Homo sapiens: one gene and its partners. The protein of the gene in region 1 purifies or fractionates together with the protein of each later gene. This does not show direct contact. Each region holds a gene or a part of one and is shown on either strand. Other genes may lie near its edges.

What was found.
Region 2: the proteins of MARCHF6 (region 1) and TXNDC15 purify together in Homo sapiens (affinity purification with mass spectrometry; 4 studies listed by BioGRID and IntAct, with this or other methods). This does not show direct contact.
Region 3: the proteins of MARCHF6 (region 1) and TLR2 purify together in Homo sapiens (affinity purification with western blotting; 2 studies listed by BioGRID). This does not show direct contact.

The regions. Positions count from the first base shown.
Region 1 is NC_000005.10:10,356,038-10,364,072, forward strand, and holds part of MARCHF6 (E3 ubiquitin-protein ligase MARCHF6), read left to right. Parts: intron 1-8,035. UniProt on the Homo sapiens protein: Endoplasmic reticulum membrane-associated E3 ubiquitin ligase that plays a critical role in mitigating endoplasmic reticulum stress, the regulation of cholesterol and lipid homeostasis, and ferroptosis.
Region 2 is NC_000005.10:134,869,085-134,878,098, forward strand, and holds the start of TXNDC15 (thioredoxin domain-containing protein 15 isoform 1 precursor), read left to right. Parts: upstream 1-5,286; 5' UTR 5,287-5,343; coding exon 5,344-5,446; intron 5,447-5,746; exon of another isoform or gene 5,747-6,048; intron 6,049-6,159; exon of another isoform or gene 6,160-6,314; intron 6,315-9,014. UniProt on the Homo sapiens protein: Acts as a positive regulator of ciliary hedgehog signaling. Involved in ciliogenesis.
Region 3 is NC_000004.12:153,700,709-153,707,224, reverse strand, and holds the end of TLR2 (toll-like receptor 2 precursor), read right to left. Parts: intron 4,999-6,516; exon of another isoform or gene 4,334-4,998; 5' UTR 4,318-4,333; coding exon 1,963-4,317; 3' UTR 965-1,962; downstream 1-964. UniProt on the Homo sapiens protein: Cooperates with LY96 to mediate the innate immune response to bacterial lipoproteins and other microbial cell wall components. Cooperates with TLR1 or TLR6 to mediate the innate immune response to bacterial lipoproteins or lipopeptides.

The DNA of each region.
Region 1 (8,035 bases):
TTGGAAGTCTTCTGACATTTTTACAATTAAATTTAAGTTGAAATAACACTTAAAGGAAAAGGGAGGGTTATAGAGGATTAAAAATGATATAGCAAAGATGCCAAAAAACTAATAAAAAATGTTCTATTTGTGAAATCAGTTATTATAGGTTATTTCTTTAAAAAATGCGACTTAGGTTTTTTAAATCTGCTTAGAAATTTTTTGGTAGGAGATATTCAAAGTATGGCCAAACATAAAACTAAATTAAAAAAAAATCAGTATCACCTACTTTTGAAAACACTTATACTGTTGTGGTTCTGTTTTTTATTTATTTTATTTTATTTTATTTTATTTTATTTTATTTTATTTTATTTTATTTTATTTTATTTTATTTTCCGAGATGGAGTCTTGCCCTGTTGCCCAGGCTGAAGTGCAGTGGCATGATCTCTGCTCACTGCAACCTCCACCTCCCAGGTTCAAGCGATTCTCCTGTCTCAGCCTCCTGAGTAGCTGGGATTACAGGAGCGCGCCACCTCCCTCTGCTAATTTTTGTGTTTTTAGTAGAGATGGGGTTTCGCCATGTTGGCCAGACTGGTCTCAAACTCCTGACCTCAGGTGATCTGTCCGCCTCAACCTCCCAAAATGCTGGGATTACGAGCGTGAGCTACCGTTCCTGGCCGGTTCTCTGTCCTTTAAAAATATATTTTAATATTCTGAGCAAAGAGATTAAGAATGTTACAAACACATCAACCGTGCGTATAGTAAGTCTTCCCTTCCTTTTAAAAATAGCACATTGCTTGCCTCTGATGGTACCATATATGATAGTCTGATGCTCAGAATGTTATGCATTTGTAGTAATACTTAGTTCCGACATGGCTGTTTCATACTAATTGTTTGCTAGATTTTAAAGATCTCTAAAGTTTCTTCAGTATTAAATTAATTTTTGTAAAATCAACAGGTTTATAATCCATTCTCATAATACAGGGATGGATAAATCATTCTTACTGTGTATATGTTATTTGTATGAGTGCAGATGTGTTATGTCAACTGCTATCCATCCTGACATTTTTAAACTTCAGAGCTATAGGAGACCTTAGACATTTGCCCTCCTCATTTTATGGGTTAGGAGTCCGATCCTGTAATGCACTGAGATTTCTCAGTTTCAGAGAAAAGTCTATCCTTTGGTCAAGGATATACTTTTTTTTTTTTTTTTTTAAAGGAAAAGCAGTACAATATTGGAATAGATGTTGCAAGTGTTGATGTGCAGTTCTCAAAGATAATATTAAACATTTTGTCATAGAATGCCCACATTTCGGCTCAGTGATATAAAGCTGAGGTTTTTTTTTTTTTCTTTTCCATTTTGCTAAATTACTGCTTGTATTAGCACAACATAATACAAAGTCTTAGTAATTTTATTACAGAATACCAAAGCAGCTGTTCTTTATGCTTTACGGAACATATTCATTCGAAAAGTGTGAAGCTAAAGAGTATTATGGTTGATCATGTTCTATATCACTATGGCAAAAATTTGAGGTAACTTAAATTTGGAAGAAATGAGTTAAAAGGATAGAAAGTTGTCAGAATCAGACAGCTAGTTCCTCTCTTTCTAGACCCACACAGTCTTCTTTGTTTCCAGAGATGTCTGCTGCATGTTTCTTACCACGCATTACCTTTCACTGTTTTGGCATGCTTGTGACCAAGTGTACATGCATTTATTCGTTAAATGTTTACTGAGGACCTGTTATGAGCCAGGCACTATTCTATGCATTTGGGCTAGGCAAGGAACAATATAGAGAAAATCCTTTCTTTCATAGAGCTTACATTATAGTTATTAGCTTAAGACAAAATAAACATGTAAATTATATGGCATAACTAGAAGGTTATAAACGCTGTGGAGAACAGTGAATTGGGAGGGAATAAGAAGTGCCAGGATATGAGGGCATGGGTTGCTTTTTTTTTTTTTTTTTTTGAGACGGAGTCTTGCTCTGTCACCCAGGCTGGAGTGCAGTGGCGCGATCTTGGCTCACTAGGGGTCGCAGTTTTAAATATAGCAGTAAAGGAAGGCCTCACTGAGAAGGAGCAAAGGAGAAGGAGTTAGCCATGCAGATACTCTGGGCAGAGCATTCCAGGCAGAGGGAACATAGCCTATGTGAAGTGTCTAAGATGGGAGCATGCCTAGAGTGTTCAATAAATCACCAGGAGAGCAGTGTAGCTGTAACGGAGTAAAAGAGTTGGAGAAGAGTAAGTATAATATGAGGTCAGAAAGATATGGAGCCAATGGGGAGAGAGCATGTAGGACTTCATTGACTTTTATAGTGAGATAGGGAGCTATGGGAGGGTTTTGAGCTGACGTGAGACATAAATTGTCTTGATATGCAGCCAGCTTTCTGTATTTGTGGGTTTCGCATCTGTGGATTCATCCAATGTCAGATGGAAAATACTTGGAAAAAAATAGATGATTACCTCTGTACTGAACATGTACAGCCTTTTTTTCTTGTCATTATTCCTCAAACAATACAGTATGATGACTACATAACATTTATGTTATAATTATTCTAAGTAATCTAGAGATAATTTAAAGTACAGTTGACTCTTGAACAACATGGGTTTTTGAACTACATGGGTCCACTTACACATGGATTTTTTTCTTCAATAAATATATTGAAAAAAATTTTGGAGATTTGCAGCAATTTGAAAAAACTTGCAGATGAACTGTGTAGTCTAGAAATAGTGAGAAAGTTAAAAAGTTATGTCATTAATGCATAAAATATATGTAGATACTAGTCTTTTACTCACTATCATAAAATATATACAAATCTGTCATGAAATGTTAAAATTTATCAAAACTTACACACACAAACATGTAATGGAGACTGTACATGGCACCATTCACAGTTGAGAGATGTAAAGAAACTTAAAGATACAGTATTAAATCATAACTGCATGAAATTAACCGTAGTGCATACTGTGCTACTGTAATAATTTTGTGGCCACCTTCCGTTGCTGTTGTTGTGAGCTCAAGTGTTGCTGTTGTTGGAGCTCATCTCTCCAGTAAATTGTATATGGTAAAAAGTATCTCTCTGGATTCTCTTGTATTTTTCATTGCATTTAGTGCAGTACCCTAAACTTTGAATAACATGATGGGATCCATATGAGGTGCCACTAAGTGATGCTGGAAGTGCTCCAGGAAGCTGAAAAAAGGCATGACATTATGAAGAAAAAGTCGAATTGCTTCATATGTGCCATAGATTGAGGTTTGTAGCTGTGGTTGCTGGCCATTTCAGAATGATTTATCTTGTAAACAGACAGGTATCAATAAATATGGTACAGTGCTGTAAATGTAATTTCCTTCTGATTTTCTTAATTTTTTTCTCTAGCTTTATTGTAAAAATAAAGTATATAATATAGAATACAGTATATAATATTACAATACATATTGTAAGAATGCAGCATATAATACAGTACGCAATACATATAATACAGTTTATGCATTCATGGCATAATTTTATTTTTTTTGCTCCTTCTAAGCTACACAGTTCATCTTTTTTTAAATTGTTGTGAATTTCCAAAAAATTCTCCAATATATTTATTGAAGAAAGAAATCCGCGTATAAGTGGACCCATGTAGTTCAAACTGTGATGTTCACAGATCTGTACTTTAAATAATCTCCTGAGTACTCATAATACCTAGTATAATGTAATACAAAGGCTGGGTGCGGTGGCTCACGCCTGTAATCCCAGCACTTTCGGAGGCGGTGGCAGGCAGATCACCTGAGGTCAGGAGTTCGAGACCAGCCTGGACAACATGGCGAAACCCTGTCTCTACTAAAAATAGAAAAAATTAGCTGGATGTGGTGGCGGGTGCCTGTAATCCCAGCTCCTTGGGAGGCTGAGACAGGAGAATGGCGTGAACGTGGGAGGCGGAGCTTGCAGTCAGCCGAGATCGCGCCACTGCACTCCAGCCTGGGCAACAGAGCAAGACTCCGTCTCAAAAAAAAAGTAGTACAATATGTGTATTAATCTACTGTTTATGTTGTATTATGTTATGGGAAGGCTTCTGGTCACCAGTAGGCTGTTAGTAGTTTTCCATTAGTAGTTTTTCGGGAGTCAAAAGTTGTATGTGTGTGTGTTTTTTTTTTTTTTTTTTTTTTGAGACAGAGTTTTGCTCTTTTTGCCCAGGCTAGAGTACAGTGGCACCATCTCAGCTCATTGCAACCTCCGCCTCCCAGGTTCAAGCGATTCTCCTGCCTCAGCCTCCCGAGTAGCTGGGATTACAGGCATGCACCACCATGCCTGGCTAATTTTGTATTTTTCGTAGAGATGGGGTTTCATCATATTGGCTTGAACTCCTGACCTCAGGTGATCCATCTGCCTCAGCCTCCCAAAGTGCTGGGATTATAGGCGTGAGCCACCGCGCCCGGCTGTATGTGGATTTTTGATTGTGCAGGAGGTCGGTGCCCCTAACTCTTGTTCAGGGGACTCCTGTATATGGAAGGATGTGCATAGGTTACTTGGAAATACTATGCTGTTTTACATAAGGGACTTGAGCATCTGTGGATTTTGGCACCTGTGGACTTCCTGAAACCAATCCCCCAGGGTTACTGAGTCTATCTCTTTCCTGGTTAAGACAAGTTTTTGTTTGTCTTAAATTCAAATTTCTGGAAGCTACAATCTCACTGGCTCATCTTGGGTCAGTTGCTTATCCTTTTGATCCAGGTAGCTGGGTGGTGGTGGGAAAGGTAATGGAAGAATAAGAATCATGACTGGCTGTGTCCATTCTTGAGCTGGTAAGACAGTGCAAAAGAGATCTGCTATATTGCTCAATTAGAATACTTTTTAGACTGAAGCCCTGTGAGTGATTATTGCTGGGCTATCCTCTTCCAGATGCCTACTTCCCATTTCTTCCAGGCCAGGCTTACTTTAGTGGGTTTTACTTCTGTCCTGTAAGACTATGAAGATCACTTATTTTTAGTATAATACAGTTAGAACAGAAAGAGTTCTTGAAAAGTGAATAGGAAGTAAGAACCCCCCAAGGGAAAACTTAATAATTCAGACTATATTTTAGAATGCTGTTGCAGTAGGCTAGATGAGATATAGGAGTTACATTAAGGTAGAGGGAATGGAAAGAATGGAAAAGAAGAAATAGACCAAGGTAGAATTAATAGAACATAGTAATTGAAGAGGTAATATAAGGAGGAGGAGTTAAAAATGATTGATTTTTATATTATTTCAAATGGGAATGGAAAGAGATAAGTAGTTCAGTTTTAGATATTGTTTTAGTTTGCAGGGGCTGCTGTAACAAAGTACTACAGATTGGGTGCTTAAGAGAAATTTGTTTTCTCAACTCTGGAGGCTAGAAGTTTGAGATGAAGGTGTTGGTAGGCCTGGTTTCTTCTGAGGTCTCTCTCCTTGGCTTGTAGATGATTGTCTTCTGTGTCTTCATGTAGTCTTCTCTCTGTATGTCTTCATGTAGTTGTCCCTCTATGTCCTAATCTCTTCTTTTTTTAAAGACGCTAGTCATATTGGATTAGGGCCTACTCTAAGGACCTCATTTTAACTTAATTACCTCTTTAAAGATCCTGTCTCCAAATATAGTTACATTGTGTATACATGCAGGTTAGGGCTTCAACACGTGAATTACGGGGGGAGGGGCAGTGCAATTCAGCCCATGATAGACATGAATTCTTGAAGGCTTGGAAGACTGAAGCATTCCCTGTACACTTATTTTTTATAACTTAACTTCATTATAATATCTTTTTTTTTTTGAGACGGAGTTTAGCTCTTGTTGCCTAGGCTGCAGTGCAATGGCGCGATCTCGGCTCATGGCAACCTCCGCCTCCTGGATTCAAGGGATTCTCCTGCCTCAGCCTCCCGAGTAGCTGGGATTACAGGCATGCACCACCACACCTGGCTAATTTTGTATTTTTAGTAGAGATGGGGTTTCTCCATGTTGGTCAGGCTGGTCTTGAACTCCTGACCTCAGGTGATCCGCCCACCTCGGCCTCCCAAAGTGCTGGGATTACAGGTGTGAGCCACTGTGCCTGGCTGTAATACACTTTTTACTTTCCTGTCTCTCTCCTTCCCTTCTGTCACCTCTTAATGTATTCTGTAAAGATGGAATCAGGTTAATAAAGTATAATTTACACACAAATTTACCCTGTTTAGGGTGCAGTTCTGTTATAACACTTTTGAAATAGAATATTGGAGATTCCATGTCTTTTTTGATTACTTCCCCATTTACCAAATATTGGGTACATGTCTACTACGTATCTAGGACCTGTGCAACAATGTTTTCTGCATGTTTCATTTCTTCATTCCAAGTCCTTGAAAAGTGCCAAGAGGCATTTCTATTGAATGGAACAGTTTGAAGAGCATTGATGTAGCTAGAGTAGTGGTTTTCAAAGCTTTGTCCCAAGACCCCTTTACATTCTTAAAATTGAGGACCCAAAGGACTTTTGTTTATGTGGGTTTTATATGTAAAGATAGATATTTACCATATTAGAAATGAAGAATGAATACAAATTATTTAGAATATTTAAAAGTAACAATAAACTCAATATATGTTAATAAAAATAACGTTATCTGGATTATTATAAGACAATTGGATTCTCATCTCTCCCTTTGCAGTCACTTTGTTAAGTGTTTTGGTTAGTGTATATAAAAACTCGGCATCACACAGATTTATAGCTTGAAAAGGGATGAATATTTTCAGATGTTTGTATGTTCTTTGATACTATGTCAAAACTTGACAAGTGGTAGTTTCTTAACGTATCTGAAAACATGGCAGTCACCTTAAAAAATTAAATTAACTGTTAAATTAAAATCCATTTGTCTGGTAGTGTAGGATAGAGTCCAGAAATAGATCCACACATACATGGACAGTTGATTTTTGGACAGAAGTGCAAAAGCAATTGCATAAAATATAAAGGATATCGTTTTTCAACAAATGGCACTGGAATAGTTGAATAGCTGTAGGAAAAAAAAAAGAACTTTGAGCTATAGCTTGTACCATATACCAAAATTAACTCAAAGGGCTGTTAGACCTCAATGAAAAACCTAAAACTATGAAACTTCTAGGGGAAAATATAGGAGAAATTCTTCGGAATCTTGGGTTAGACCAAGATCTCTTAGGTATGACTCCAAAAGCATGATCCATAAAAGAAGTGGATAAATCAGATGGCATCAAAATTCAGAATTTCTTTCAAAATTAGAAAGACACTTAACAGAATGAAGACAGGATACAGAAGATGTATCTTATAAGGGGCTTGGAGTATATAAAAAATTCTCAGAACTCAGTAATAAGAAAACAATAACTCAGTTTTTAAAATGGTCCAAAGATTTGTATAGACACTTCACTAAAAAATACATGTACATGGCTATTAAGCATATGCAAATATGCTAAGCATCATTAGTCAAAACCATAATGAGACACCACTTCACACCTGCTAGGATGGCTATAATCAGAAAGAACAGGTAAGTGTTGGTGAGCATTGTAGAAAAATTGGAACCTTCATTTGTTACGCTAGGAATGTAAGATAGTGTGACTGATTTTGGTAATTCCTCAAAAAGATAAGCTGAGTAACCATATGACCCAGAAATTTCATATACCCAAGAGAATTCAAAAAATATATTCACACAAAAACCTGTATATGAGTTAGCAGTATTATTTATAATAGCCAAATAGAAACAACCCAGTGTCCATCAACTGATGAGTAGATAAATGTGATCTATTTGTAAAATAGAATATTACCCAGCAGTTCAAAGGAATTAAGTACTGATGCATGGTACAACTTGGATAAATCTCATAAACATTAGGATAAGTGAAATAAGCCAGTCACAAAAGAACATATTTTCTATGATCCTATTTGTGTGAAATGTCCAGAATAGGCAAATCTATATATAGAGAAATTAGTGGTTGTCTGGAACTGGGGAGAGCAGATGGAGTAGGAAGTATCCACTAATAGTTACAGGGTTTCCTTTTGGGATGATGATAATGTTCTAAAAGATTATGGTGATGGTTGCGTAACTGTAAATATACTTAAAACAATTGAAGTCTT
Region 2 (9,014 bases), about 120 Mb from region 1:
CTCATGATCCGCCCACCTCGGCCTCCCAAAGTGCTGGGATTACAGGTGTGAGCCACGGCGCCCGGCTATTTCTTTTTATTGAAGTATAATTTACATATCATAAATTTTACCCATTGTTAATTTTGTGTGTGTGTGTGTGTCTATCCAATTAATCTAGCACAATTTGGTGGAAAGACTATCCTTTCCATTTTTTTTTTTTTTTTTGAGACGGAGTCTGGCACTGTCACCTGGGCTGGTGTGCAGTGGTGCGATCTCGGCTTGCTGCAACCTCTGCTTCCCAGGTTCATGCCATTCTTCTGCCTCAGGCTCCCAAATAGCTAGGATTACAGGCGCCCGCCACCACACCCGGCTAATTTTTTGTATTTTTAGTAGAGATGGGGTTTCACTGTGTTAGCCAGGCTGGTCTCAAACTCCTGACCTCGTGATCTGCCTGCCTCGGCCTCCCAAAGTGATGGGATTACAGGTGTGAGCCACTGCACTGGCTATCCTTTCCATCTGGAATTGCTTTGTCATGTTTACTGAAGATCAGTTGACTGTAGATGTGTAGGTGTATATCTGGGCTAACTTGTCTAATTTGGTGATCTGTCTGCTAATACCTATGCCGATACCACAGTCTTGATTACTGTAGTTTAATTAAAGTTTTGAAATCAGGTAATGTAAGTCTTCCTACTTTTTCAAAATCATTTTGGTTGTTTCATATAGATTTTAGGATCAGTTTGTCAATTTCTACAAATCTCTAGGATTTTTTTAGGAGTTGTATCTATAGATCAATTTGGACAGAATTGCCATCATAACAATATTGTCTTTCAATCCAGAACATAGTATGTCTCTCCACTGATTTTCATCTGTCTTGATTTCTTTCAGCCGTGTTTTTTATGTTTTAGTGTATAAAACTTGAACTTCTTTTGTTGAATTGAGTCTTAGATATTTTATTATTTTTGATGCTACTGTGAATAGAAGTTTTTTTTGATTTTTGGTAGCATATATAAATATAGTCTGTTTTCTGCATAGTGACCTTCTATCTGGCAACCTTCCAAAACTCACTTATTATCTCTGGTAGTTTTTGTTGTTGTTTTTGTTAATTTTTAAATTATTAAAAAAATTTTTTGGCCGGGTGCAGTGACTCATGCCTGTAATCCTAGCAGTTTGGGAGGCCAAGGCGGGTGGATCACCTGAGGTCGGGAGTTTGAGACCAGCCTGACCAATATGGAGAAACCCTGTCTCTACTAAAAATACAAAATTAGGCAGGCGTGCTGGCGCATGCCTGTAGTCCCAGCTACTCGGGAGGCTGAGGCAGGAGAATAGCTTGCACCCGGGAGGCAGAGGTTGCGGTGAGCCGAGGTTGCGCCATTGCACTCTAGCCTGGGCAACAAGAGTGAAACTCTGTCTCGAGGAAAAAGAAAAGAGAAAAAAAAATTGCCAGTACATAGTAGGTGTATATATTTATGGAATAAATGAGTTTCTTTTTGTTTTTGTTTTTTGAGACAGAGTCTTGCTCTGTTGCCGAGGCTGGTGTGCAGTGGCAGGATCTCGGCTTATTGCAACTTCCACCCAACCGGGATTCTTTTTTTTTTTTTTAAGAATCGGAGTCTCACTCTGTTGCCCAGCCTAGAGTGCAGTGGCCTGATCTTGGCTCACTACAACCTCTGCCTCCCGGGTTTAAGCAATTCTCCTGCTTCAGCCTCCCGTGTAGCAGGGACTACAGGCACATGCCGCCATGCCTGGCTAATTTCTATTGTATTTTAGTAGAGACGGGGTTTCATCGTGTTGCCCAGGCTGGTCTCGTGAGCTCAGGCAATTCACCAGCCTCAGCATCCCAAAGTGCTAGGATTGCAGGACTGAGTCACCGCACCCGGCCACCCCCCGGGTTTTAAGTGATTCTCCTGCCTCATCCTTCTGGGTAGCAGGGATTACAAGCATGGGCCACCATGCCCGGCTAATTATTGTATTTTTTAGTAGAGATGGGGTTTCACCATGTTGGTCAGGCTGGTCTCGAACTCCTGGCCTCAAGTGATCTGCTCACCTTGGCCTCCTAAACTGCTGGGATTACAGGGTTGAGCCACCGCGCCTGGCCCAGAGATGTTTGGATACAGGCATGCAATGTGAAATAAGCATATCAGGGAGATTGGAGTATCCATCCGCTCGAGAATTTATCCTTGATTTACAAGTAATCCAATTACATTCTCTTTTTTTTTTTTTTTTTTGAGATGGAATTTCGCTCTTGTTGCCCAGGCTGGAGTGCAATGGCGTGATCTCGGCTCACCACAACCTCCGCCTTTCGGTTTCAAGCGATTCTCCTGCCTCAGCCTCCTGAGTAGCTGGGATTACAGGCATGCAGCCACTATGCCCAGCTAATTTTGTATTTTTAGTAGAGACGGGGTTTTTCCATGTTGGTCAGGCTGGTCTTGAATTCCTGACCTCAGGTGATCAGTACGCCTCGGCCTCCCAAAGTGCTGGGATTACAGGCATGAGCCACTGCGCCCGGCCGACTAGTTTTAAAAAAATTTTGTTAGCAGTGTGAACTCATAGATGTTAACATATGCAGTGTATTTCAGTCTATTGAAATTTTTCATTTTTATGCTCAAATCATCCCATCTTTGGCAAGTAGGAGCCAGTTTGGTTCCTCAGTCATTCTAAATGACCGTAGTACCCTGGTATTCTTTTATTTATTTATTTACTTATATATTTAAGTTTTGCATTTTGATATAAGATGTCCCAGACTCACAGAAAGGCCTTTTGAGATAGCAAGACAAATTTGGCGGATTTAATTTCAGCCAAAGGAAGAGAATAATGTCAGCTTTTCTTTCCTCACCCCCAGAAATTTGATAGAAACCAGGACAATTGTGAAGGCAGTTTTCTCACTGAAAAGAAGTGCACGTTGGTGGTGAGACAGTTAAATAAGGATTCTAACCTGTGGACTACATTTGTTGTCATTAGAGGGGGTATATACAGTATTTATTCAAAGACGCTCAAGCCTGTAATCCCAGCCCTTTGGGAGGCCGAGGCGGGAGGACTGCTTGAGCCCAGGAGTTTGAAATCAAACTGGGTCAAACAGTGAGACCTCATCTCTAGAAAAAAATTTAAAAACGGGGTGGGAAGATCGCTTGAGCCCAAGGGGTTGTGGCTGCAATGAGCCATAACTGAGCAATTGCACCTGGGTGACAGCGAGACTGTGCCTAAAAAAAAAAAAAAATTGAAAGACAATTCTAACATCCAATTCTAACATCTAATTCTAACATCTGTAAGCGTATCTGTCCCAAACACAGAGCTAAAGTAAAAACACAGGAAGGGGCCGGGCGCAGTGGCTCATGCCTGTAATCCCAACACTTTGGGAGGCCAAGGCGGGTGGATCACCTGAGGTCAGGAGTTTGAGACCAGTCTGACCAACATGGTGAAACCCCATCTCTACTAAAAATATAAAATTAGTCGGGCGTGGTGGCGCATGCCTGTAATCCCAGCTACTTGGGAGGCTGAGATAGGAGAATTGCTTGAACCCGGGGAGGTGGAGATTGCAGTGAGCCAAGATCGCGCCATTGCACTCCAGCCTGGGCAACAAGAGCGAAACTCTTGTCTCAAAAAATAAAAAAATCAAACAAACACACATACAGGAAAGGAAAGGAGATAATAAAAAGGAAGGAGTAGTAACCACAGGGCATCCATGTTGGAGTATCCAGATCAGCTTCCTTTTCATTAGTCATAAATCCTTTTGGTGCTCTGTCCTGTTGGCTTTTCATGCACCTTCAAATCATGTATGGGGGTATGAGAAAGATAGTTTAAAAAGGAAAGGTTTGTTGTTCCACTGTTAGGGGTGAGGGAGGTACTTAGCGAAATGATGACTAGTAATAAGCTCTAGAACTGTGGGCTCTTTTATCCATGTCCATTGTTTCATATTCTTCTGGACCCACAAGATGGCACTTGAGGATCTACAACAGCAAAACCATACCAACGTATTTAGAATAAAAGAATCATCCACAGGGACAGATTAATGATGCATCTTTCTGGCCTAACAGTGTCTTTTTGATGGGCATAGAGATAAGGGGACTATGGCCACACCATCAGAATTGTATTATTCAATTAATAATGCCTACCACTTTGAAATGCTTCCTGTGCCCCAGGACACTGTGCTCATCACTTTACATCTCATTTCATCTATAAGACTCTATATAACGTCATTTCCACTTTACAGCTGAAGAAACTTAACTTTAAGTTACATAACCTGCTGACTGTGAACTATCACATGTGCTGAAGTTGGGATTCACCAAGCGGCCAAAAAGCACAGGTTCCCCTTACCATTGCTATGTTAACCAATAGACTGATGTATTTTAAATCAGTTTCTATTTTTTCAACCTCATAAGTTTGAAAAGCTGCACTCTGCACTGATTTAGCACTGACTGGTGGCTGCTTAAAGCTTGCCTTATTCCATTTTAGCAGGCCCCCCGGCAAAATACCCCAATTAGTGGTGTCATCCTCTCTATTCCAAGAATTTTCTCTTAAGACTCCCGCTCTGTGCGTTTGCTTGGGAATGCAGAGCCCTGTTCCTCATCTCCCCATCTATGCTTTCTTCATTCTAAGCCCTTTCCTATCTACTTTATGCTCGAGGTGGCTCCACCTCCACCATGAGCCAGAGCCAATGATGCTCACGGCCCCAACCATGATTAAAAAGAGATTGCCCTGCAAGGTAAATCAGTTAAAACCAACCTCTCCTGCCCTGAGTGGATAGGTAGGGTTAGGGTTGCCAGATGTCACGAAGTTACAGGATGCTCAGTTTTAAGGTATATCCCTTATACTATAAGGGTTATAGTAAAAAATATTCATTATGTGAAATTCAAATATAACTGGGTATCAGGTATTCTATGTGGCAACCCTAGGTAGGGGAGCACAGGTTAGGCAAGCGATTAGAAGATTTGCAGCCTCCAAAGTTTCTGCACCTCGATGGGACACTAGAACAGGAAGGCTCCTGGGCCTTTCTGGCTCTGGGAATGAAGCGTGGAAAACCCTCCTTAGGCGGGCGCAGTGCTTCAAGTAGCCAAGCTCTGACTTCCGAGGGAAGAAAGGAGGCCATGGGCCTCTGCCAGAGCCATGCTCTGCACTCTGGGGTCAGCAGAGTTCAAAACGACCTGCAACGTCTGGCGCTTAGCTCCTAAAGAGGTCTCCAGTCCAGCGCCGACGGCCAGCGGCTAGAGGCCGTCCGCCCGACTCCAAGATGGCGCCCGCCACAGCTGCCAGGTGTTAAGATGGCGGCGCGGGGCCGCGCCCGCGCTCCCAGGCTCTCCTCCCCCAGCCTTCCTCCGGCTGGCAGCACGACTCGCGTAGCCGTGCGCCGATTGCCTCTCGGCCTGGGCAATGGTCCCGGCTGCCGGTCGACGACCGCCCCGCGTCATGCGGCTCCTCGGCTGGTGGCAAGTATTGCTGTGGGTGCTGGGACTTCCCGTCCGCGGCGTGGAGGGTGAGTGTGGGCCGGGGGCGGTGCATGAGATGATGGGGCGAGCTGAGGTCCACCCGGGCGACGCTCTGGACCTGCGCGAAGGCCGGCGGTGCGCGACTCGCCCCTTCTTGGCGTCTCCCCGGGCGCGTCTCCCCGACTTCTCTCCCCGCGCACCGCCCGCTGGTGGCCCGCGAAAGGGGGCCGGTGGGCTGAGGGCCGGTGGACGGGAGCCCGGGGGTGGTTGGGCCGCGTTCAGGCCGCCCTCAGCCCGTGGCTGGTAGCCAGGAGGGACAGTGCGGTAAGCGCTGCTGAGGCATACCCTCTGGTGATAAGCAATTTATTATTAATAACATTATATCAAATACCGACATTGTTGTGGCCGTATTAGGAGCCAGGAACTGTGCATCGTGCTTTATTTACATCATTATCCCATTTAATGCTCCCACAAACCCTGTCAGATCGGTTCCGTTTAGTGTCTCCATTTCACAGATGAAGATGCTCAGGCCCCGCCTAAGTTTGCGCTTCTGATACGTGGCAGAAGCCTGTCTCTCTGACGCCAAAGCCCAGTCTGGAGTCCACGCTGCTGGACCACTGTCTTAAGGAGGCCAGTCTTGCTCAGCTCCCTGCATGAAAAACAGACGAGAAACACGGGAGACTCCCGGTAACCCCCAACTTGCCGGTAGGGAAGGCAGCCACTCTAGAGGCATGGCGAGGGTGGAGAGTGGAGGCCTTACTTTCATGCTCCTTCACCCCACTCCTCATAGTCCTGTTAAAGTCCAGACCCTCGGTCTCGCTTGTCATTTAGACCTTAACAGGAATAGGCAGGTCTTTCTTTTCCCTGGGGTGTCCTGGATGGAGGCAGGACAGCAGAGAGTTGTGGAGAAGGGTGAGTCATAGTAACACAATTACCATGAATGAAAGCGCTCACTGTGTACCAGATGCTGTGCTCAGTGCTTTACGAGCATCATCTTTTGGAATCTTTACTGTTTTGTTTTTGTTTTTTTAAGGGATGAGGGCTTGCTCTGTTGCCCAGGCGGGAGTGCAGTGGCCCATCATGGCTCCCTGCAGCCTTGAACTCCTGGGCTTAAGTGATCCTCCCACCTGTTTCCCAAAGTGCTGGGATTACAGATGTGAGCCACTGCTCCCGGTTTATGTAATTTTTATTTTTATTTTTTTTTGAGATGGAGTCTCGCTCTGTTGCCCAGGCTGGAGTGCAGTGGCGCGATCTTGGCTCACTGCAACCTCTGACTCCCGGGTTCAAGCGATTCTCGTGCCTCAGCCTCCTGAGTAGCTGGGATTACAGGTGCCTGCCACCACACTGGGCTAATTTTTGTATTTTTAGTAGAGATGATGGTCCACCATGTTGGCCACGCTGGTCTGGAACTCCTGACCTCAGGTGATCCACCCACCTCGGCCTCCCAGAGTGCTGGGATTACAGGCTTGAGCCACCGTGCCTGGCCTTAGTAATTTTTAAATGCATATGCAGTAGATGTTATCATGCTCATTTTATAGAAGTAACTTAAGACTCAGAGCCAATAAGTCCTTTGACAAGGTCATACAGCCAGAAGTTGAGGAGCCTTGATTCAAGCCCATGTCTGCCTGACTTCAGAGCCCAACCTCTGCATTTTCACTATACTTAACTGCTAGCCTCACAGAGGGGATGGCATGGGTTGGATATCTTCTGTTTCAGCCCCTCCACCGTGCTCTGTGCCCTGTGTGGCTGTCCTGTGTGGAATAAATACCAGCTGTCCTACCGTCTTGCTTCCATTGTGTTGGAATGAGGGGAGAGTGAGGTCAGGGTATTGATTCTCTCCGCTCCCTCCCTGAGAAGTTATTGAAGGCTGGCTTTGCCCCCGGTGGAAAGCATTGAATTCTAGAAAGCTGCCCTCTGTGTTACCCTTGATGTTTCAAGGTTCTGTGACTACTTCTCTCTCCAGACTCTTAAGGTCTATGAGTGGTAACTGGCTCCTCCTCTACTGTTACTGGCCTTGGAATTCCTTACCATTGCTTTTCATTTCTCTGCACCCAGCCTACACATTAGTGGTCCCTTCATTAAACTCTCCTCAACTTGCCCAAGTTAAATGTGCTGTTTCCTGGCAGAACCCTGGCTGATTCAGGGTTCAGCTTGGGTCTTTGGTCATCATGGCCAGGCCATGAATGGGGTGAAGACAGAAGAAACTTCACCAGCTGATTTCTTCTCAGAGTAGCTGAAAATCTGAGGTGTTTTTTTTTTTTTTTTTTCTGCAGAGGATGCCACTGGCAGATTATGCTGGCCTCAGGTGCTGAGGCCCTGAGAGACTAAGCAACCTGGAGGTAGCAATGCTATCCAGGTGTCTAGGAATGGAAGCAAACTCCTGGCTTCAATACCCCTATGCCACTCTTCCCTAGGCAGTCAGCTAGCAAATTCTTACTGAGCACTCATCATATGCTAAACACTGTGCTGAGCACTGGGGATCCAGTGGTGAGTTAGAGCAGCAGGCCTTTGGGGAAGGCAGCCACTAAATAACTACAAATTACTAAGAAAATTGCAAGACTGAGAAATGCATCAAGGAGAGTCCCAGGGCGTTTTTGGGAACTGTAATGGGAGACCTCCCACCCTGGTCTGAGGGTCAGGGAATGTGTCCTTACAGAGGTGACATTTAGGGTGAGATCTGAATGAGGAGGATGAAGGATTTGGCAGGAGGAAGCTTCCCAGCAGAGAAACAGCCCTCAGGAAGGCTCTAAGGCAGGTGGGGATAGGAGGAGTGTAAATGATCAGGGACTAGAGGGATCTGATGGCCACAGGTGAGAGTGCAGACAGAGGCCACATTGGGGCCTGGTAGCTCTGCTACAGAATGCAGATGCATTCACAGGGTAGGGGAAGCCACTGAAAGAGTTTTAGCAGGGGAGTGACATGATCAGATATGCCTTTTATCTTTCAGTTTCACTTGTATTGCTGTGAAGGTCAGGGTCTGGAGGGGGGATAGCAGGCTGACCAGGGAGACCAGTTTAGGTGGCTACAGTAGTTGCCCAGACAAGAATTGGCTGTGGCCTTTGCTGAGAAGTGTTAGTTGGGATGGGGAAAGTAGATGGATTGTGAATGTGTTTAGCAGGTGAAATTTTTTTTTTTCTTTTTGAGAAGGAGTCTTGCTCTTGTCACCCAGGCTGGAGTGCAGTGGCACCATCTTGGCTCACTGCAACCTCCACCTCCTGGGTTCAAATGATTCTCCTGCCTCAGCCTCCCGAGTAGCTGGGATTACAGGCATGCGCCACCATGCCTGGCTAATTTTTTTTTTTTTTTTTGAGATGGAGTTTTGCTCTTGTTGCTCAGGCTGGAGCAATGGTGCGATCTTGGCTCATTGCAACCTCTGCCTCCCGGGTTCAAGCGATTCTCTTGTCTCAGCTTCCTGAGTAGCTGGGATTACAGGCACCCGTCACTACACCCCGGCTAATTTTTGGTATTTTTAGTAGAGATGGGGTTTCGCCATGTTGGCCAGGCTGGTCTCGAACTCCTGACCTCAGGTGATCTGCCCGCCTTGACCTCCCAAAGTGCTGGGATTACAGGCGTGAGCCACTGCGCCTGGCCTAATTTTTGTATTTTTTAGTAGAG
Region 3 (6,516 bases), on another chromosome or scaffold:
TGAAACAGCAGCAGCCCTATGCGAGTTCCCCAAGGACAAGCTTGTTCTGCAGTTAATGAGCATATATTTCTTTGTGGTATTTTTCTGCAAACAGCAGGATCCCTTATATCCCTGCTAGTATCCATAACAGAAAAATATCCACTTACAAGCCATAATATATAAGGGAATGAAATATCTTCTTGGAAAATAATAATAATAGCTAACATCTACTACAGACATCACCCTCACCCCACACACGAACCCATAGTGCCCATTCTCTTAGGCGTGGTACTCTTGCCCTCAACACCCCTCCAGAGAAAATGGGAATCAAGGAGCTTAGGCTCATGGTTTACTTACATTCCTACATTTCATACTCTCAGTATCTTAGGATATAGAGATCATCATCCCTATTTTAAAGACAGAAAAACTTTTTGGGTCATGTCAACTGACTTGCCAAAGATTACACATCTACTAACCCAGGTCTTTCTGACTCTAGTGCCCAATTAACCACATACACCCAGTTCTGGTTGAGAATTGAGCAGGGGTCAAAGGCTCACTTCCTTTCACATGGTTCCCAGCTTAAGAAAGTTACATAGAATCAGCAAATAGTGCTTACCAAAGAAAGTTGCATCAAAATTTAATGTGTGGTATTATTATACCTAGATTGCAAAATTAACATATGGTAGTAGTATCTACCTTTAAATTACTGTGTATCAAACTATTTTTGAGTCATTATGAGGAAACTCTAGGTATATATTTGCTTAAAAATCTATTTAGCTCACATGTACTTTTTAAAATATTCAGAAGGGGAAAAAGGGCAGGCTTTTTTAGAATTAAAAACAAGACTTTTCGAAGAAGGAAAAAGCAACAAGATGCAGGAGATATAGGCTAAAAAACAGGAACTGAGAGTCAGAGTGATTGGACAATAACTAGAACTCAAAAGGTAGTTAGAGGCTGAGGAAGACCAGAGTCCGGATGTGGGAAGTGTCTTTCAAATTCTCCTAAACTGAGTATTTATTTTGTTAAATTACAGAAATACATAATTTACTGTACCTTGCACTGTGTACTCACTCTCTCAAGTAACTATGGCTGGAGAAACCTATCTAATAGCCAGAAAGACAGATCCAGATCACATGAAAATACACCCTCTAGTATTTCTCATCCTGTAAAGTTTAATAGGAAATACACAGCACTTTTTTCTAGGAATAGCAACAAGTTTTGGGGAGTGCCCCAAATACTTTGCCTTGTTGCTCTTGAGATCAGCTGCACAGAGAAGTGACAGCTAGGTAGGACAGAGAATGCCTTTTGTGGCCACAGAGGAGTCTCTTAGCAGGAAGAAAGAATGACACAGTCATTGAGAATCTTAAGTTCATTTGTGCTGTTTCCTAATGAACTAAGCCAGTTGCTACAGATTACAGTTGGCCCTCTATATCCATGGGTTCTGCATCCATGAAGTCAACCAACTGTGGATCAAAAGTATGTTTTAAAAATTTTGAAAATAAAAAATAACAATAATAATATAAATAAAAAGACAGTACAACTATTTACATAGTATTTACATTGTATTGGGTATCATAAGTAATCTAGAGATGATTTAAAGTATACAGGAGAATGTACACAGGTTATATGCAAATACTATGCCACTCTTATAAGGGACTTGATCATCTATGAATTTTGATATCCACGAGGATCCTGCAACCAATTCCCTTGGATACCAAGGGACTATATTCAGATATCAGTAATAGACTTATGATCATGGTTATCTCATAGAAAAAAGAAAAACCAAAAACCAATTTTTAAATCTGGCATATGTTTATAAAACAGCACCCCAGACAAAATTTGAAGTTTTGTAGTTTTAGTAAGCAAGTCCTCAAATGACGGTACATCCACGTAGTTTTTATATAATTATGTCTGAATGAACTTAACTATAACTAGTGACATAAAGATCCCAACTAGACAAAGACTGGTCTTAAATATGGGAACCTAGGACTTTATCGCAGCTCTCAGATTTACCCAAAATCCTTCCCGCTGAGCCTCGTCCATGGGCCACTCCAGGTAGGTCTTGGTGTTCATTATCTTCCGCAGCTTGCAGAAGCGCTGGGGAATGGCTTTTTTCTCAATGGGCTCCAGAAGAATGAGAATGGCAGCATCATTGTTCTCATCAAAAAGACGGAAATGGGAGAAGTCCAGTTCATACTTGCACCACTCACTCTTCACAAAGTTTTCAGAAAGCACAAAGACAGTTTTGTGGCTCTTTTCAATGGAGTCAATGATATTGTCAATGATCCACTTGCCAGGAATGAAGTCCCGCTTATGAAGACACAACTTGAAGGGGGGATTGAAGTTCTCCAGCTCCTGGACCATAAGGTTCTCCACCCAGTAGGCATCCCGCTCACTGTAAGAAACAAATGCATCATAGCAGATGTTCCTGCTGGGAGCTTTCCTGGGCTTCCTTTTGGCCTGGAGCCAGGCCCACATCATTTTCATATACCACAGGCCATGGAAACGGTGGCACAGGACCCCCGTGAGCAGGATCAGCAGGAACAGAGCACAGCACATGCCAGACACCAGTGCTGTCCTGTGACATTCCGACACCGAGAGGCGGACATCCTGAACCTGCTGGCCACGCACATGGGATGGAGAGTCACACAGGTAATTTGCTGGCCAATCAATCAAGACTTTGGCCAGTGCTTGCTGCTCCTGAGTGAAGGAGAGGAATTCACAGGAGCAAATGAAGTTATTGCCACCAGCTTCCAAAGTCTTCAGTGTGTGAAATGAGTCAAGTTGCTCCTTAGAAAACGTAGTTATTGCATTCCTACTGATTTTCAATACTAGTAACATGGGTAAGAGGGAGGCATCTGGTAGAGTCATCAACTTATTTCTGGAAATATAAAGTTCTTTGAGTTGCGGCAAATTCAAAGAAAATAAATTGAGATTGTTGTTGCTAACATCTAAAATTTCCAGTGTCTTGGGAATGCAGCCTGTTACACTGTGTATTCGTGTGCTGGATAAGTTCAAATATTTCATCTTTTCTGGCCACTGACAAGTTTCAGGCATAGAATGAAAACTATTCTTACTGATATCAATGTTAGTCAAGTTTTTCAGAGTGAGCAAAGTCTCTCCGGTTTTTTCCAATGATGCCAAATGATTTTGCCTTAAAATTAAAGTTTGTAGAGAGGGCCAGGCATCCTCACAGGCTGAATTTTTCAAGTATTCTTCAACCATCAAATTTTCACTGAGATCCAAGTATTCTAATGATTTTAAATGTTGTGAAAGTAAACAAGGAACCAGAAAAACTTTACTGTTTTCTACTGTGATTCTTTTAACTCTTTCTGTAAGTGAATATAAAGTGCTCAGATCATAAAATAAGTAAAACCTTGGAATATGCAGCCTCCGGATTGTTAACGTTTCCACTTTACCTGGATCTATAACTCTGTCATTATCAGATGCTCTAAAATTACCAACTCCATTAAGGGTACAGTCATCAAACTCTAATTCTAACAATCCAGAAATCTGATTCAAAAGTTTCATAACCTGAAACAAACTTTCATCGGTGATTTTCACATTTCTAAATGTAAACTTTTTAATCAATGAATTTGTTTCACCAGTGGATAGTTCTGAAAAATGGAAAGTGTCCAAATCAGTATCTCGCAGTTCCAAACATTCCACGGAACTTGTAACATCTACAAAAATCTCCAGCAGTAAAATATGCTGCTTCATATGAAGGATCAGATGACTTACATTCTGAATTGACTTCAAACTTTTTGGCTCATAGCTCTGTAGATCTGAAGCATCAATCTCAAGTTCCTCAAGGAAGGTAAGTCCAGCAAAATCTTTTCTTTGAATCTTAGTGAAGGTGTCCATATTTCCCACTCTCAGGATTTGCAATTTTGTGAGATGAGAAAAAAGAGATGTTTCCCCTAGGGTTTTGTAAGGATTTCCCAGTAAGTTTAAGAATGTTAAAGAAGAAAGGGGCTTGAACCAGGAAGACGATAAATTAGATAAGTAATTATAGGATAAGTCTAAATGTTCAAGACTGCCCAGGGAAGAAAAAGAATCTTCCTCTATTGTGTTAATTCCATTGGATGTCAGCACCAGAGCCTGGAGGTTCACACACCTCTGTAGGTCACTGTTGCTAATGTAGGTGATCCTGTTGTTGGACAGGTCAAGGCTTTTTACAGCTTCTGTGAGCCCTGAGGGAATGGAGTTTAAAGATCCTGAGCTGCCCTTGCAGATACCATTGCGGTCACAAGACAGAGAAGCCTGATTGGAGGATTCTTCCTTGGAGAGGCTGATGATGACCCCCAAGACCCACACCATCCACAAAGTATGTGGCATTGTCCAGTGCTTCAACCTACAAATAAAAGAGGTTCAAATAAGTCATTGTGTTTGACAGCATATCGTAATTCTAATTCTTGAGAAATGTTTTCTAGGCATAACACACACACACACACACACACACACACACACACACACACACACAAAGAGAGAGAGAGAGAGAAACAGATGAATGGAACGAATGAATGGGGATAAAAAAATGAATTCCCTGATACATTCAGCAATGCTAACACAGACATACAACCACTATGCAGTACTTAAAAGCACAACCATCCGGAATTACAGAGCAAGACTCAATAACATGGATTGGAAGAGTGAGTAAATCAATGAATGGAGGAATGAGCAATCAAGCCTTTTAAGAAATGGGCTAAGCTTAACCATATGGATTTACAATCACCTTTTTCTGCACTTCAAACTTTCTTAACATTTAAGCATTTCTTTTCTCCGCTTCAGTGGCCGCCTTGATTCATAGAGATCTCACAGAACCAAACTATAGTTCTCATTCACTGAATGAAACTCCAGGAGTAGCATGCTTTGGGACCAAAAGAAAAAAGTTCCATGTTCATCAACCTGCCTCACACCTATCACTAGCAGGCAGGAGGGGTGTTGGAAACTCGAGGCAGACCAAGGTGGTTTGCTGAGTTGAAGGAGACTCACACCATCAGAACCCTGTCTTCCTGCCTAGAAGTAAATGCAAAAAGCAGTGTTTAAGTCTGGATGGGCTGTTCAGATTAATGTGGGGGAAATAAAACTATCTGCACCACAACTGCTAGTTTACTTGTAACCATAAACCCAACAACTTTCTCTTTGCCTACCTTCTGGGCCCTATATCATTCTTTGGTCTATTCAGCTACCTCATTTCTTGCATCTGTATGCCTTTGTCTGTATTTTCTCAGTGTGCTAACTATACAAAAATTTTTTTAAAAAATTTATCCCCAAGAACAAAACTTTTTATGAGTAAAACTAATTCCCCACATTCACAGAATCTGAGAGACTATAAAGGCCTGAGCTGTACAATTTATGGCCACAAAGAATTAAAACACAAACATGCTTGGTTTGGGAATTTAAATGCTGTTGAAGCCAGAATTTTTGTGTTCGCACCAAAACCACTGCTTCGCATTCCCTCTTTTTTTTTTTAAATAAATGGGTCATACCATGCATATTTATTCTGGATTTTCTTTTTTTTTTCCTTAGCTTTATTAAGGTATAATTGGTATACAAAGAAACTGTACATAATCAATGAACACAATTTGTATACATTATGTATACACACATATGTATACACTCATGGTATCATCACCGCAATCCAGGAAGTAAACATATTCATCATCTCCAAAAGCTTCTGCCACTCTGCGGTTGCCTTTTCACTTTCATAATGGAATCTTTTTGTCTTAGTCCATTAGTGCTTCTGTAACAAAATACCAGAGACCAAGTAATTTATAAAGAACAGAAATGTATTTATTATAGCTCTGGAGGCTGGGAAGTCTAAGATCAAGGCATGTGCACTGTTGTCTGGTGAGGGCTTCTCTCTCCTTCCAAGATGGTGCCTTGTTGCTGTGTCCTCACATGGGAGAACGCAAGAGGGCAAGGGGGCACTACATTCCATCTCAAGGCCTTTTATAAGGATGCTAATCCCATACCTGAGGAAAGACCCCTCATGACTTAGTCACTTCCCACAGGTCACACCTCTTAATACTTAGTTTTAGGATTAGTACTGTTACAATGGGGATTAAGTTTCAATATGAATTTTGGAGGAGACACTGCTATTCAAACTATAGTACTTTTGATGAACAGATGTTCTTATATTTTATATATTTTAATAGTGAGTTTTCTAGCCTATTTTTAAAATATTTCCTGTATTTTCATAAAGATATTCTCTTTGTTATTTTCTAAAATCTTTATTGCTTTGCCTTTCACTTTTAGATCTATAATCTACCTGGGGTTGATATTTGAGGTAGCAGAAGGATTCACTTTTTTCCCATATGGATGTTCAATTAACTTGTTTTTTACAGATCATCTTGAGGAAATAATCAACAATATTTTTTTGTTAATAGGGACATGCCCATATAGGGGTAGATCTTGTTTCAGTGCTATTCTGATCCAATGTTCATTTGTCTATCCCTATACCAGCAACACACTATATTAAATGTATAATATATCTCAATATCTAGGTGATAGATGTATTTCAAATGTGTATCT